2 separate regions of the Homo sapiens genome follow, and region 2 is linked to region 1. The links come from fine-mapping of genetic effects on gene expression. Tissue or cell type: CD8 T cells. Region 1 holds a variant in brackets; the other region holds the start of a gene. All regions are shown on one strand. Distances are from middle to middle.

Evidence for each region. PIP is the estimated chance that this variant, and not a neighbour inherited with it, causes the effect.
Region 2: it holds the start of INTS6, and the variant in region 1 is fine-mapped to the expression of INTS6 in CD8 T cells (CEDAR, PIP 0.95).

Annotation. Positions count from the first base shown.
Region 1 is chr13:51,360,993-51,368,730 of GRCh38, reverse strand. It overlaps SERPINE3 (serpin family E member 3), which reads right to left. Exons shown (of 10, transcript NM_001386375.1): 8 at 7,367-7,453; 9 at 6,838-6,921; 10 at 3,996-4,492. The coding sequence ends at 4,449. It overlaps INTS6 (integrator complex subunit 6), which reads left to right. Exons shown (of 18, transcript NM_012141.3): 17 at 833-926; 18 at 2,886-7,154. The coding sequence ends at 2,979. Among named protein-coding and RNA genes, the nearest start is that of MIR5693, 16 kb to the right of the region's middle. The variant G/AG (reference allele first, on the strand shown) is at 3,340.
Region 2 is chr13:51,449,042-51,456,779 of GRCh38, reverse strand. It overlaps INTS6 (integrator complex subunit 6), which reads left to right and starts at 3,744. Exons shown (of 18, transcript NM_012141.3): 1 at 3,744-4,365; 2 at 4,725-4,802; 3 at 5,606-5,755. The coding sequence starts at 4,255. INTS6-AS1 (INTS6 antisense RNA 1) reads right to left here and starts at 3,435. Exons shown (of 2, transcript NR_103812.1): 1 at 3,362-3,435; 2 at 2,064-2,777. RefSeq lists silencers at 2,979-3,298, 3,389-3,588, 3,819-4,078, 4,319-4,588, 4,599-4,718 and 3 more and an enhancer at 3,709-3,758.

The DNA.
Region 1 (7,738 bases):
GGACTGAGAGCAGAGCAACACTGTACAGATAAATTGACAGGAACCCATAGTCTTGAATATTCTGACCAACGATGGAATTTTAATATAGCAGCTAGCTCACAAGAGATATAGTGAAAATTAAATGACTTCATGTCTGTAAAGTTCTTGTCATAGTGCCTACCACTATGTTTAGTAGTTAAACTGTGATATTATAGGATATGTTTAGGCCAAAAAACTAAAGTTATGAAAGCTCTCTGGTATATGAACACAAAAGAACTTCGTGGGAAAAAGTTCAGTATTATTGGCATTCATTTAGAGGATGTTAACAGATCACTTGCCCTGGGGTAGTAGAATGACCTGGGTGGTCCAGAAATGGGAACAAATCAGTCCTTGGAGTTCAGACGTTTATAGCCCTTGCAGAGTTTCATATGAAAACTTTAAACTGAAATAACACTCTTAACCTGTCTGGTTTTTACCCCCACTTCCCAGTTACCCCCATGTTAGCTGTTAGAATTTTAAACTGTAAGGATGGAGTTTTGTAAAGGCCACTTGTTCTTATTTTTTAGTGATACTACCATAAAGCTATTTACTCATCCTTTTAAGCTTTATGTTTGATACCTTAATAGGAACTTTTACTTACAAAGCAGGGTTTGATTAGTTGTTTTATCTTTGTTGCTGTGTACTTACTTTTACATATATGTTAAAATATAAAATCTCTAATGAGTGGTGAAATTTTTATGTAGAATGTTTTTATCTCAGTATATCTTAATATCATAAACTGCAAAAGAAGAATATTGAATAAGAATACAAATGAAAGGCACTTAATTTTTCTTTTTGTTTCTTTTGCTTTAAGAATATGAAAGAATCTTCACTTTACTGAAGCATGTGCAAGGCAGTTTACAAACAAGACTAATATTTTTACAAAATGTCATTAAAGAAGCATCAAGGTAAATAAACTATTGCATATAATGAAATGGTGATGAAATGAGTCCACAGTTTATATAGGCAGTATTTTAATAGTATCCGTTTTGCACTTGTATTGTTTATAAATGTATATGGCATACCAACATATAAATAAATTCTTATTCTTTTTTAGTTTATTGAAAGAAATTCACTTAGAAAACAGCCACACATACATTCTTCAGGAATTATGGACCTTTTCTCCCTACAAATTACTGGATACTTGGAGAATTCTTGTTATTCTTCTCTGTAGCTTTTTGATATCTTTACATTAATATTTTATAACCTTTAATTTTTCTCCTTTATACATTAATATTGGTGACTAAAAATAACGTACTTGAGTGTCATTTATTTTTACATGGGAAAACGTAATTAAGGAGACAAGAATTGGACAAATGGGCCTTATTCTGATTGTTTCAGTAGCCCAGGATCATTAGTACATTGGCCCTCTGTATCCCTGGGTTCCACATTCATTGGATTCAAGCAACCACAGATTGAAAGTATTTGGAGGCGGGGAAATGGATGGTTGTATCTGTATTGAATATGTACAGGCTTTTTTTTTCTTGTCATTTTCTAAATAATTCAGTCTAATTCATATCGTATTTACACTGTATTAGTATTATAAATAATGTAGAGATTATTTAGAGCATATGGGAGAATGTACATAGGTTACATGCAAATATTGGGCCATTTTATACAAGGGACTTGAGCATTCGTGGATTTTAGTGTTCATAGGGAGGCCTAGAATAAATCCCCCATCCATACCGAGGGATCACTGTGTAAAGAAGGTGGATAAAGGTTATAAATGGTAATTAAGAAGTGCAATTAACTGGAAAACATAGTTGTATGAGTTTAAAAACATTTTTTATTTTCCCTTCAAGATTTTGGGGATTTTAGTATTATAAGAAAACTTGGGGCTTATCACATCCCACCTTCTAAATGTAAACACACTTATACTTTGTCCCCCTGTCTCTTCTATGCTACACATGAAGATTTTAGATAAAGTTGGTTTTGTTTCTGGTTTTCTTTTCTTTTTGTACTTTTGGAGTGGCTAGAGCATAGGCCAGTTTGCAGGATCAAGATAAGGCTATAACTTTTCATGTAATTTTGAGTATTTAACCTATTATGCTCTTTATGGTAACATTCTGTCAGCTAAAACCTCATTAGGAATTTATATCCCCGGTATCTGTACTTCACTTCTGCCACCTTTTAGAGAGTTGTGTAGTATTATGGTGGCTATTTATATTAGCTTCTAAGTAGCAAGGAAGTAGGAATAAAATGTCCAGTGTCTTGGGATATTCTTAAAACCGTCAGCAGTTACGTATACAGATGCAATTTTAGTCTGTCCATATTTGTTACTGAAAATCTTTAAAAGTTGTTACTTGAACTTTAACTGCTTGCTATACTCTGTATTATAGATGTCTATCCTTGATTTGCTAGCTCTCAAATTGTAATAGAATACCATGGTTTTTAAATGCTGCTGACCAATTTTCATTTCTTCTTCCATTTTGTGGGAGATTATATTCATACTTTGTTCACATTCCTTTCAATATTCAGCTTACAAAGAGCATGAGAAGAAGCTATTGAAGTATTTGCTTGGGGAGCCCAAATTTCACTAGAGTGTTTGCAGCCCTTGAATATATTTTGAATATATTAGTTTTTTGTTTTTTTGTTTGTTTTTTCCTTTTTCTTTTCGGTTGTGGAAGGAACAACCTCTTTCCCATTGTTTAGCCCTAGAGTGTTTTAGGGACAAACTATAATACTGTACTAGGATAATAATTTGCTAATCTTTCAACATATTTTATATTGTCGTAGTATTGATTTTTCTATTTTCATTTCACTTTGAAAAATCTTCCCAAAATTTTCTCTCCTTTCTTAAAAAAATTATACTGATATATACTATTCATTAAAAAGTAATTGAGAGTACTATTTATTTTTTCATACAGGTTTAAAAAACGAATGCTAATAGAACAACTGGAGAACTTCTTGGATGAAATTCATCGAAGAGCCAATCAGATCAACCATATTAATAGCAATTAAAAGAAAATAGAATGTGGCCACTTATTTCACTATCTTCTTCAAATACAAAGTAAATACAAGACTGTTGTGATCTTGCATTCATTTTCTGACATGCATTGTTGGCTATTTGAAATACTAAAAGCAAATCTACAGATCCTTTTTCCATCATTTTACAGTGACCTTTTCTTCATTTTGGTTTATTTTTGTAATGTGAAAAGTATCACTCTAAAAAACATTTTTAATTTAACAAACTAAAAATATTCCTCCAAATCTCTTGCTTGTCATTGACTCTTGCGTGTCAATTTCCCTCAGGTTCTATTTTCTTAAACCAACCTTTAAAATTGTCACCTCTGTTAAGGTTGAACTTTGCCAAAAAAAAAA[G/AG]AAGTTACTTTGTAATTTTTGGGGAAAAAAGCACATACATTAAAACTAGGTAATGTTTTGTATATACAGTTATTTTGGATATATTATTGTAAGTTGTACAAATGTATTTTGAAGAATATTTAAGAAAAGCACTTTTGTTATTCCATCAATAAATGCTCTATTTTACTCTTGTGTGGTTTAGGAAATAATCACATTTAAAGTAATCATTTAAAAACATCCTAAGATAATGGAATTTTAAAGGCCTTGCTTTTTAGCATTGGAAAAATACACCACTTGAAGTTCATGTTTGTTAAGCCTAACTGTAATTACATGTTACATAATCTGCATTGCCTTTTTACTATATGTTCGTAGTTTTTGTTGGCCATGCCAACATACTCCCATTTCTGCCTAGATTATGGGAATGACTTTGTATGGGGCAGATAGACAGATACTTTAAAAGCTATTTAAAAAGCAAACAACTTTGGATATTATTGGTTTCCTTACTTCAACACCTTTTCCTTTATCACTAGGATTGTGGATGGCACGAAGCTGAAGCTGTTAGGGAGTGGTAGGTTTGGAGTACAGTACATGCTCTGAAATATCTAGCCTTTAGCAGCTTCATGCCATGCTTGCAAAAGCCCACAACAAATTGGAGGCCTCCTTGTTCTGCTCTGCTGTTCTCACACTTAAACTCTGTTTTATTTATAAGCTAAATGGAAAGGAAACACCTTTAAGATGACTTTGCTCATTTTGCATCCCCCCTGAGTTTCACAGGATAAGGAAAACCACGCTATTCATTCTCCACCCTCAATTCAACATGGCCTAGAGTATCCGTACTGAGGAAGCAATCTTATGGCCTGACTCACTCACCATTCATGATCACTGCTGTGCCTTTTAGTGGTTTGGGGGGTAAGCAGTAGAAAAGAAGGTCAAAATAGATTTGGATTAAGAGTAGGCAAAATAAACTTATAACATTTAAAAACTGAAGTATTTTTAGGTTTATAATATTGAAAATCACATACCCTTAGCTTTTTACACTTTATCAGACATTTTTTTAAATTTCAAGGGTATAGCAAAATGAAATTATAACTTTATGAAGAAAAGCATTGATGAAAGTGGAGAACATGCATTTAGTCTAGGGGATTTGAAACTCTCCCAATACTGAAGACAAACCCTGTCAAGAAAAAGAAGAATTTAATATTATATAGTATTTTCATATGCAGTTCTTTAAGCTTTGTTTACTTCTATACAAATACTTTTAAGTAATGCAAGATAACATTTAATAGATGGAATTGTTAAGGTAATTGCCTGTAGTCACATTGCTAAATTCATTGAGAGTTACACAAAATCCAGAATATATTGTCTGTTCCTAAATTATATATATTTAGATTCTGGAATTACTAGGAGGAATTAGAAGTCATTCAGATAAAAATTCATACTTAACAAGAGTATCTAGGAAAGAGATTCAGCCCATCCCAATATTGAGCAGCTTTCCTTATCAGAAAGTTTTATTTTCTGTTTCACAGATTGCTCATGACCTTTAATACATTTTTCTGAATGAACCCTGGAGGGAGGTGAGAAGTAGCAGTTTTGTTCATCTCTTCTTTTTGTCCTTTATCTCTCTGCCACTGTTCTCACCTCATCCTAAAACCTGGTCAGGAGGGTTTGAAACCTATCAGAACTAAAGGTTAATATCTCATCTCCCTCAGGCTTTTTTCATTTAAAAAAAAAATGGGTATATTAGTTAAATTAGAATACTTGTTGTAGAATTATTGTCAAAGGGGAAGGGAAATACATCTAGGGGAAACATCATGTCTTTTAGGCCCTTTATGTCACTGAATGACTTAAGGCTCGACAAATGATATTCTTGGAAAGTTTAATCTTGAGGTTTTCAAATCTTTTTTTTTAATGTCTCCCATGTTTCTCATTTGCTGATTGATTCATTAGTTGCTCTTAGTAAGATTTGTCAGTTGGAAATAATGAAGGCTGAGACTCATTTCTAAACTCTTCCATAACCATCACCAGAAGAGCAGCCACTGTGTTGTGTGATGTAGGCTAATGCCTCCCAGATAGAGGTAAAGTCACAAGGACTATTAGAATTCCAGTGGATTGTGGAACTGGTTTTGGATTATCCTTATATTTTCATTCTGATTACTGAGGCAGTTCTGAAAACTCCTACCATTGAAATAGTGGTGTGTCTTTTCCTTGTTTAAGGATTTTACATCATTTTTATGCACTTGAATTCCAAAATCAGAATCTCTCTTTTACCTATCAACCTTTATTGGCTATTGGCTTTTGGCAATGACCTTTCTGTTCAAATGTAGTCCTGTCTCTTTGTTTCCTTAGGGAGTAGAACCTGTCCTTTTTCTCATCTTTCATTTTTTTGACGTGTCCTTTCTAAGAGAAGGCTCTCTGCCGCCTGTTCTGGGTGATAAGTGATATTTTCATCTAATCGTTATGTGGTTGGGATGATCATGGTGAAATACTAGGAAGACATACTCTGTTGATGGACTTTTTCTCTCCAAATAATCCCAAATAGATTATTTTCTAGTGAATGGTTTATATCTTTCTCGTCACAAAAATGTTCCTTTGATTTCTAGCACAAGGTACAGCAGGATGCAAATGATTCTCAGATAAAATGATGTTGACAGTATTTCCTTAACAATTTATGTAAAACTATGCATAATTTTCATTCTAACTTTTGACATTTTTCTCCATAAATAAAAGTAATGCCTGATGTTTAGTTAAAGTAGATCCACCTTTGCTTGATTTTATTAGTCTTGTTCTATCCTATTTCTTTTTAATACACTGTTTAGACTTGCCAACAACTCTTAACTGAGAATCTCTTTTCCTTCCTAGGCTAAGTAATTGTGAGTGGGGGAGGAAGAACATTAAGAGAAATAATCTAAAGACTTTGTTCAATATTGTCGAAGCCTAAGAATATTTGTGTGTCCTTCTGATGTACTGAGGCTTTGCCGGTACCACACCATCTTTGGATTACCATAAGGTTATGTAGTAGGACTTAAAAGTACTAGGGCAAACATTTGATTTTTGAGAAAGATCAACAGAACAGTATAGAAATCCAGGTGCATTCATTAGAATACTAGGATCACAAGAGGACTACTCTGGTGTACTCTAGTGACCTGAAAAAACTCTAAAATGATAAGAAAGCTAGGGGACAAAGGGAAAAAAGGGCAAGATTTATAATTTATTTTACTTTCATGATTTTTCCAAGTGTCTTCAGAAGTAGAAACCTATAGCATTAAAAAAAAAAATCTACATTAACTATATATGAGCTGAGAGAATGAGAAGGTAAAAAACATGGAGGATAAGTTTCCTTTGTACTTACGAAATAGTCCCCTTTCTTAGGATAGAAGATAGCAACTGGGTAGCTTCTGAAGCACCATAAAAACAGCTAGAAAGAATGCTTATTTTTGAGGGGATAGTGGACAAATGAGCCCTTGTTGCTAGAGAGACACTGATAAATTATCTGAATCCTGTCAAAAAATACTGTAATACCTGTGTTAGGTTCTCTCAGGAAATAGATGAATGGCCGATCTGCTTTAAAAATAGGAATCCGAGACCTTTTCAATAACAACAGAGCTGCAGGAAAGAAAGAAAAATTCCATTGCATTTTCTGTGCATTTTTAAGAAAATAACTATTGGTTATGAAGTAAGTTAATTTTTTAAGAAATCAAAGCATCCTAATGGCATTTGATTGTTTACTGTTGTGATGGGGGTGCAGATGGGAAAATTAAAGAGAAAAGATGCCATTTAGCCAATCCTGTCTCCTGTTTTCAACACATTCCATGGAATAAATTCCTTATTGAAGGTAACTTTCAGAATTATTTTTATGGGATGGATATCTCTTCTTCCCCGTCATTTTTCAAAAACTTTTTGTTTTCTTTAGTGTTCCTTTTTAAAAAATACTACACCACACCTGAACTTGGGGGTTATGGAAAGATTCAGAAGTGTGAAGATTCAACTAGGTAAATTTCAGAAAGGTAGATATGGGTAAGCAGTGTGACTGGGTATTCTCTGAACATACCTGTGGCTCCAGATGCCTTGGTGCCTTCCTCCAAAACTTCAATCTTGGCCTTGTGGATTGCTTCAGAAACATAAAAGCCATCTTGGCCTAACCACAGAAAATGATAAAAATGTGAGTTGCTCATTAACATTTTTCTAACACATTTAGAACACATTCTTTAAAAATGTACTTACAAAATTTATAGTATCCAATGCTGCTTACTGTGTAGCTAGGGAAAGAGTGGAAAATTCTGTTTTTGTTTTTACTGGAGGCTCAGGTAGCTGTTTGGAAAATTCTTAAGACTCAATATGTTACCAAACTTTAATTTGTTATATATATTTAATTTGTTAAAATATGTAATCGCTCCCAAAATAATATTCAGAGCACTGCCCC
Region 2 (7,738 bases), 88 kb before region 1:
CAGGTGTGCACGTGCTTGGGGCAGCATTGACACGCAAGCCCCATGCTGCCTCAGTCCCCTCTGGACTTTGGGTGCTGATGAGCACAGGAGGGAGGCAGGCCGAGGCGGGAATAAGGACATCTCAGTGAAGGCCTGTAGGTACCACTTAGCATGAACAACCTGGGCGCCATGGGCACTGTGGATGGCAGGTTAATGGCAGCAGGATCCACACAGGCTCCTGGGCGGAAAGGGGTGGGTCCCCGGTAACGCCAGGGGTCAGGCTGCCAGTTCCATGCAACGGAGTGAGAACTTATGGTGCTTTCTCCAGGCCTGCCCATGGCTGCGCCATGGACCAATCAGCACACACTTCTTCCTCTCAGAAGCCCATAAAAACCCTGGAGTGAACCAGACTTGGGCAGACAATGAGATGACCTGCTTGCAGACAGGAGCTACCCACTGTGGGTCTATGGACACTGTGGGTCTCCTCTGTGGAGAGCTGAGCAGATGACAGGACCACCTGCCTGCTGAGAGGAACTACCCATTGTGGGTCTCCTCTCTGCTGAGAGCTGGACACTTATTGGGATGACCTGCCTGCAGAAAGAAGCTACTCATTGCCCTCAGGTCTCCTCTGAGCTGTTCTGTCACTCAACAAAGCACCTCTTTGCCTTGCTCACCCTCCACTTGTCCACATACCTCATTCTTCCTGGATGTGGGACAATAACTCGGGACCTGCCAAATGGCATGGCTGAAAGAGCTGTAACACAAACGGGCTGAAATATGCCCCTTGCTTGCCATGTTGTGGGCAACACAACAAGAGAAGAGAGAAGAAGAGAAGAAGAAAGGAAAGAGAAGGGGGAAGAGAGGAGAGAAGAGCTGTGGCCCTTTAGGAAGCCTAGACCTAGGAGCTCCCTGTGACAACCTCTTTGGGGCTCTGCAGCTCCTGGCATCTCCAAGCTTCCAGGTGCCACTGCATTCCCTGGTGCCAGCTGTGGAAGCTGCTTGCAGTACACCTGGACCAGCCACAGCCTTGCAAGGGGCCAGCCCCTAGAGCTGCCCGCCCTCCTGCAGCTGGCATGCCGGGCTGTATACAGTGGCCGGACCCCATGCTTGCTCGCTCACACACCCCTCGCTGCTCCGCACCTGGCTTGCACTTGGCAGGTGTGGGATCCAGGCCGTAGTATGAGCAGAGTGCAGCCTGCTGGGACTGGTGGGCAGAATGAGCCCGACCAAAATTCGGGCAGAGGTGCCATTTTTCCAGCTGGAAAAGTGACACTCCAAGGATCCTGTGACAATGGCTCCACTGAAAAATGATTTCGAATAACTGTAATAATAGGTAAGGTCATTGTGAACGCATGTTAATCTTCAGTAGTCTAGTTTGATTTCTTTCAAACATTGCTTCTACTTAGCAACGCAATTGAAAAATAAATCTCCAATTTATAGGGGAAAAAAAACCTCCATAGATTGGAATAAAGGCCCTCTACTGTCTAGATCTCACCTGTGTTTCTAGATCTTGTACTATTCTACATGCACCTGTTGCTCCAACCTAGCTGAACTTCACTGTTCCTCAGGAAGCCCTCAGCAATGCTGTCTTAACTTCCTTTCTTCACATTTTCAATGTCGGGAAGATCTTTTCACTAGCAGCTTCCCCTTCCTTTACCCATATCCAAATCCTACCAGTCCTTTAAGACAGTGTTTCTTAAAACTGAATAATGAACAGACTCCTAAAATAAATTCTTATGATCCTAGAGAATGTTTTCAGTAGGCTGGGGTCCACAGACCAGTTTGAAAAGCACAAATATAAAGAACTAAAGAGCAATTGTATAAAATTATGCAAATGATCAAGTTGAAAGACAAATTTCATCTTTATAACTGGTAAAATAACTCGTATTTTGCCATAGAACTCTGATTCTTATCTTCAGATCTATGATCCGTTTAAGAAACACTAAGGCAAAGCTGAAACCTTGGAAAATGTTCCTGCATCACCCCAAGGTAATACATTTTTATTTTTTCTGATTTGGTGTCTAACAACTTTCTGCCTTGGAGTAGCTAGTAATATGTAGCATTTTCCTAGAAAACATAAGCTCTTTGAAGACAGGGACCACATTTTATTTATTTTTTATATGCACCACACCTAATACACAGTACATCCTCAGCAAGTACTGGCTGTAAAGCCTATATTCCATGCTCTTATTTTGTAGTCCAAATCACTTTAAAAATCACACTTCTTCTATTGTTCATACTCATAGAAGAGCATATTACTCAAATAGCTCTGCTATAAATTAACAGTAAGTTTCAGAAGTTATACCAAGTCACGAGACTCAGATTTTTAAAAAGTGCCACAAAGTGTCTCTTCTGTGTCAATGTTAATAGAACCCTTTCTTTAAATGATCAGTAGGCAAATTAAGAATTTCCGGATAAAGAACAAACTCTGGAAAAACAAAGCTAGTGGGAGAGGCCCTGTAAATACCTACCTAGTCTTACAAGGGCTGTCTCTAACTCAGCTTGTATTTTAGGCAGCGTCTTCAGTTTTTCAACTAATGTGTTTGAGAAAACTGTTTTCCTCGGACATGCAGGCGTGGACTCCTTACTTCAGGTAAGGTGACAGCAGCTTGACAGAGAGTGCCTTCCCTCCCACGGCATTTGGGACGAGGCTGAAGGAAAGACACAGGCGGGGTTACGGGAAACCCATTCTCTGCGCCATCTGGGCAAGCTGAAGTCAGTTTTTCCGCTTTCTCACGAGGTAATGGATTATCATGGGCTCAGGTCCCCTTCAGCTCTGAAACAGGTATTCTATGGCTCTAAGTAAACACGGCAAGAGACAGGTTATTTCTTTGGTAAGATCAGTTGTATTTCCCAGAGAATAAAACGGGCAACAAACCATTTATCGATATGTGAGTCTTCCCCCTAGGCCCTAGCTATTTGGGGTTGGATAAAGAAAAAGAGGGTTTGCTTCCTTTTTGGCGGGTCCTCCAATGACAGGGCTCCTGGCCCGCTGCGGGTCCAACTCCCACCTCTCGTGGCTCCCCCGAGGCCGAGCGAGGCTCCGTGCGAGGACAGCCCCTCAACCGCACTCCCCAGAGGGAGCGCTGGGACTCGCGGAGGAGATTAGTCCCCGGTCATAAACAACCTCTCACTTCCCCTCCCCCGCCCGCGCCCGCTCGCGCCGGGGCGGCGCGCCGGGGCGGCCCTCCGAGGCCCAGGAACCTCCTCCGGCGCCCGCGAGGCCCCGAGTCCTCCTCCGGAGGGCGGCTGCGGGCCTGCCCTCTTCTCCTAACCAGGTGTTTGTCCACTTTACTCAACCCTTCTTACTCGTCCACGCTACGGCCACCTCACAGGGGCGGCTGACGCCAGCCCCTTTTTCCCTCCCCTCGACCCCTATCACCTCCAACAGCCAAGGAGAGGCCGGCGGCCCTGACGCGCAGGCTCACCGCCGCGGCCGCCCCGCGCGCGCGGACGCGGCCCCCGCCCCCACCTCGCGGTCCTTCCGCAGTCCGGCCCCGCCCCTTCCCGAAGCCCGCCTCCGGGTCGGCCCGCCCGCCCGCTCGCGCGCACCCGACGCCCCGCCTCTGCGCGTGCTCAATAACTGTCCCCGGAGCCGGCCTACAAGCTTCCCCCGCCCCTGAGCTGTTTAAATATGCTAATGAAAGGATAGGGCCTGACCAGTAGAACGGCGAGGCGGTGTATCACGTGGCTCGGGGACGTGTCAGGGGCGGAGCCTCCGCAGCCCCTGCCCGAGTTAAAACCGGAGTGTGAGAGAGAAAAGCGCTTCAGTAGCGAGAGGGGCTGAGAAAGTGGTGACACCGCCGGGGTGCGGAGGGAGTCCCTGAAACTTCTCCCAACAGCCCCAGGGCCAATCTTCCCTCAGCCCACTCCCCTCTTCGCCAGCTCCCAGGTCCCCACTCCTGTACCGGGGGTGGGGTGGGGAGCCAGGCCCGTCTCCCGCTGGGACACACACAGGGGCCGGGAGCGGGGACGGGACCCCCGAGGCGGGGGGGACGAACCGACAGACAGACGGCTGGGCGCCCGCCCCAGCGGGCAGGCAGGCAGGAGGAGGCGGAGGCGGGGGTACGACGGGGAGCACTGGGTCTGGGGAGTTTCCTCTCAACTATCGGGGGAGAAACTCCCCGCAGCCGGAGGAAAGACCCAGACAGTGTTTTCCTCCCGGGGGCCGTGCTCCCCCGCCCCGCGTAGCGGCGGTCGCCGCCACCGGCGCCTCCACCTCTACCATCTCCTCTTTCTCCACCACCTCGGGCCCCGGTGTCCCCGGCCAGCACTATGCCCATCTTACTGTTCCTGATAGACACGTCTGCCTCTATGAACCAGCGCAGCCATCTGGGCACCACCTACCTGGACACGGCCAAAGGCGCGGTAGAGACCTTCATGAAGGTACCGACTGACCGAGCCCGGGCGGCGACCCCGGCCCGGCGGCCCGCGGGCGGCAGGGTGGGGGAGGGCGGCCGGGGCGGGGGTGTCGGGGACCTGACTGCGGGAGCTGCCGGGCTCGGGGACCCCCTCCCCCACCGCGCGGGCGGGCGGGCGCTGCGAGCCGGGTTCGGCCGGGGCCCGGGCTCCGGCCCCGGGCGGTGTGTGGGGAGCGATCTGTGTGTGGGGGACGGCGTGGAGGGGTGGCCGCTGCGTGTGCGGTACTGTGGGGGCGGCGGGGCCGCTGGGCGCCCCTTCTCCGCCTCGTAACCTCGCCTCTGTGCTTCCCTGTCGCCCGCCCTGTTCCTCCTCCCGTCCCGCAGCTCCGTGCCCGGGACCCTGCCAGCAGAGGAGACAGGTATATGCTGGTCACTTTCGAAGAGCCGCCCTATGCTATCAAGGTAACAGCCCTCGCCCTCCCCCTTTCCTCCCTTCCCTTCCCTGTTCCTTCCTCGCTCGCCCTCCCCGCCCCCCCATTCACCCTTCATTATGCTCCCCTCCCCCACCCGCTGCGCTCCCAGCCGCTGAGGTCTCTTCCCTGCGGGCTCCCACCCCCTCCCCCGCTCGGCAGCGTCCTAGCGCGGCGCGGAGTCGCGGGGCCACCGCCGTCCCCTCCCGGCCCGGCCCGGCAGCGGCGGCGGCGGCGGCGGCGGCGGCGCTGCTATCAACATGGCCGACATTTCCCCTCCGCGGCGTGAGCGGCAGCAATGAACTGTGGGGGATATTTATTCAAGTTAGCCGGAGTGACAGCCGGGCCCGGCCGCGCACAGCCCCGGTTTGCATTAAAGGGGAATCGGCCCGGCCGGCCCGGAAGCCAGATGCGGGGCTGCCAGGATTGGTCTTGTCAGATTCGTCCTAAGAGGGCCGGTGGGACAGCTGCAGGTTAACTTCCTAAGTCCGGCTCCCATCTGCTTCCACTAGTACCTTCACATACCCAAATTTTGGGTATTAGATTAGGTAGTAAATTTGTCAGTGAAGTTATAAAGTATTAAGGCAGTTAACTACCAAAACCTAGAGAGGAAGCTGGGTTATTCCTGGGCCACCTTTGGAAGAGAGTTTCCTCAGCAGCGGTACAGTATTAACACGTTAACCAAGCCAAACCAACCAAAAGTGAAGCTGCTACTTGGTGAACGTCAGATTATAACGGCTCTGTGTACATGGCTTTAAAAAATGAAAAAAAAAAATCTTACATTTTTCTTTTCAGGCTGGATGGAAAGAAAACCATGCAACGTTTATGAATGAATTGAAAAACCTTCAGGCTGAAGGACTTACGACTCTTGGCCAATCCCTAAGGACAGCTTTTGATTTATTAAATTTAAATAGATTAGTAACTGGCATAGACAACTATGGGCAGGTAGGTTGAATAATAAGGTGGCAAAATAGTTGATTTTTCATTTTGTGGAAAAACACAGTCCAGTCCAAAAACTACATAACATGAAATGCAAGTATAAAACATTCCAAATTAAAATAGAATATGCACATTGTTCAAAGGCAAAACTCTTACCCTACTATATATATTTTACATCCCTCATTTTTTCCCCCTCTAAAATGCATTGGTATTCAGGATTAGAATCTGAAACTTTTGCTATAAAGTTGACATACATTGGTTTTAATCCCTTGAAAGTTCAGTAAAGACCTAAAAGGAAAAGCATCCTACCACACCACACTCATGTTGTATGTGCAACTATTATAGTGGCTTAGAGACACTAGTTCGTGTTCTTCGTTTCTATATTAGTAAAGATGTTAGAGGAAATTAATCTGTTTGTTGCATCAGGGTTTAATGTGACCATGTTGTATAACTATTCTGAAAGGTAAGAAGTTTTTCACTGGAGTACAGTCACTGGCTGAGAACATTTAAGTTTTCTTTTGAAGCATACACAGTTAACAACTATTGCAGGAAGAACTCTGAATTAAATTTCAGGCCCAGAGTTTTGATTTAAACTCCAAACCCTTGGAAAAAAAGACTGCTGGAAAATATGAAAGAACCCTTCGTTTCTTAACCCCCACAAGTCCTTTTATTGCACTTACTTTCATGTATTTGAGGATGAGAGGAGCTTTAAATCAACAATAATTCACTAAGGAATAATGCAAGGTGGTCTATTGTAACATTTTATGATATTATTGCCCTGGAAATAAAAGATACTGAACAATGTATAATGTTACATGTAACAAAGGAATATTATTTCCAAGGAGCTCAGTTCTTATGTTGTAGTGAAAAGCACTATTCCTAATTATATATTGGGTATATGTTGTATTTTCCCAAGTCCCACAGTCCCTAGTTTTGTGAGTTTCGTACATTTCAGGGAAATTCTTTCTGTGACTACAACTTTTATTTGCTTCCTATTGAAGGAAATTGACTTGTTTCTGTTTTAGGAAATTTTAAGCTTCTTAGGGATAACTTCAGTGCTTAAGTGTCTTTGGAAATAACTGAATTTAGTTCTATAACATTTAAAATGTACACTGAAATTCAGAGTGAGCTTACCAAATTGAACTTCCAACGTTTAGTTAGGTAAATATGTACTTTCTTACCACATTAATACTTTTATGTTTTTCCCATCTCTGCTGCTTTTATTTTGCAACTTTTAATAATTTAGGTAGATTTGCAATGAACTTTTTGGTTTGTTTCTGTAAAATAGTAGTGGATTTCCTTCTCTTTTATATTCCTTTGTGATATGTAGTGCAACACAGTCTTACTGCTTAAGGTTTTCATCCTTACCTCTTTGAGTTCAAAGAGATATTTAAAACTTGCCATTATTTGGTTACCTTTATTTGGTTGTCATGTTGTTAGTGTATGGCAGAACTATTAGTTTCCTCTTTTTCTGCATCACATTTCATAAGTGGTCAAGGCATTTGGACATATTCACCTCCTATTACCTATTAAAAATACTTCTTAAAGATTGCTTCCTTCGAAAAACTGCTTGTCATGGAGAGGCTGAGGACATTTGTAATTTAAACCTGTATTTTCCTTTTCCCAGTTGATATCTGCCCCCAGAGAACACTTTAGTTCTTGTCTATAAGGCTTACCAAAAGTTTGCGGGAAAGGTGGTCCTGTGCTGTTACCACTTTGACCAAGAGAAGAACCTGGAGATTGGGATGTTTTTGCATGTCAGGATTTATTAATTCAATAACAGAGAGGGATGATGCTTCTCACTTATTCTGATGAATCAGCAAAGATTGCAAAGCATAATATTAATGCTTATGTCTTGAATTGGCACATTAAAAATGACACTAGCATTAAAATAAGCCACTGTTTTCAAATGAAAATGATAATTTGAGTAAAGAGTATTGAATTGGAAGAAAACATTCTTCCAGAAGATTTTTTTCATCATAAAACTAT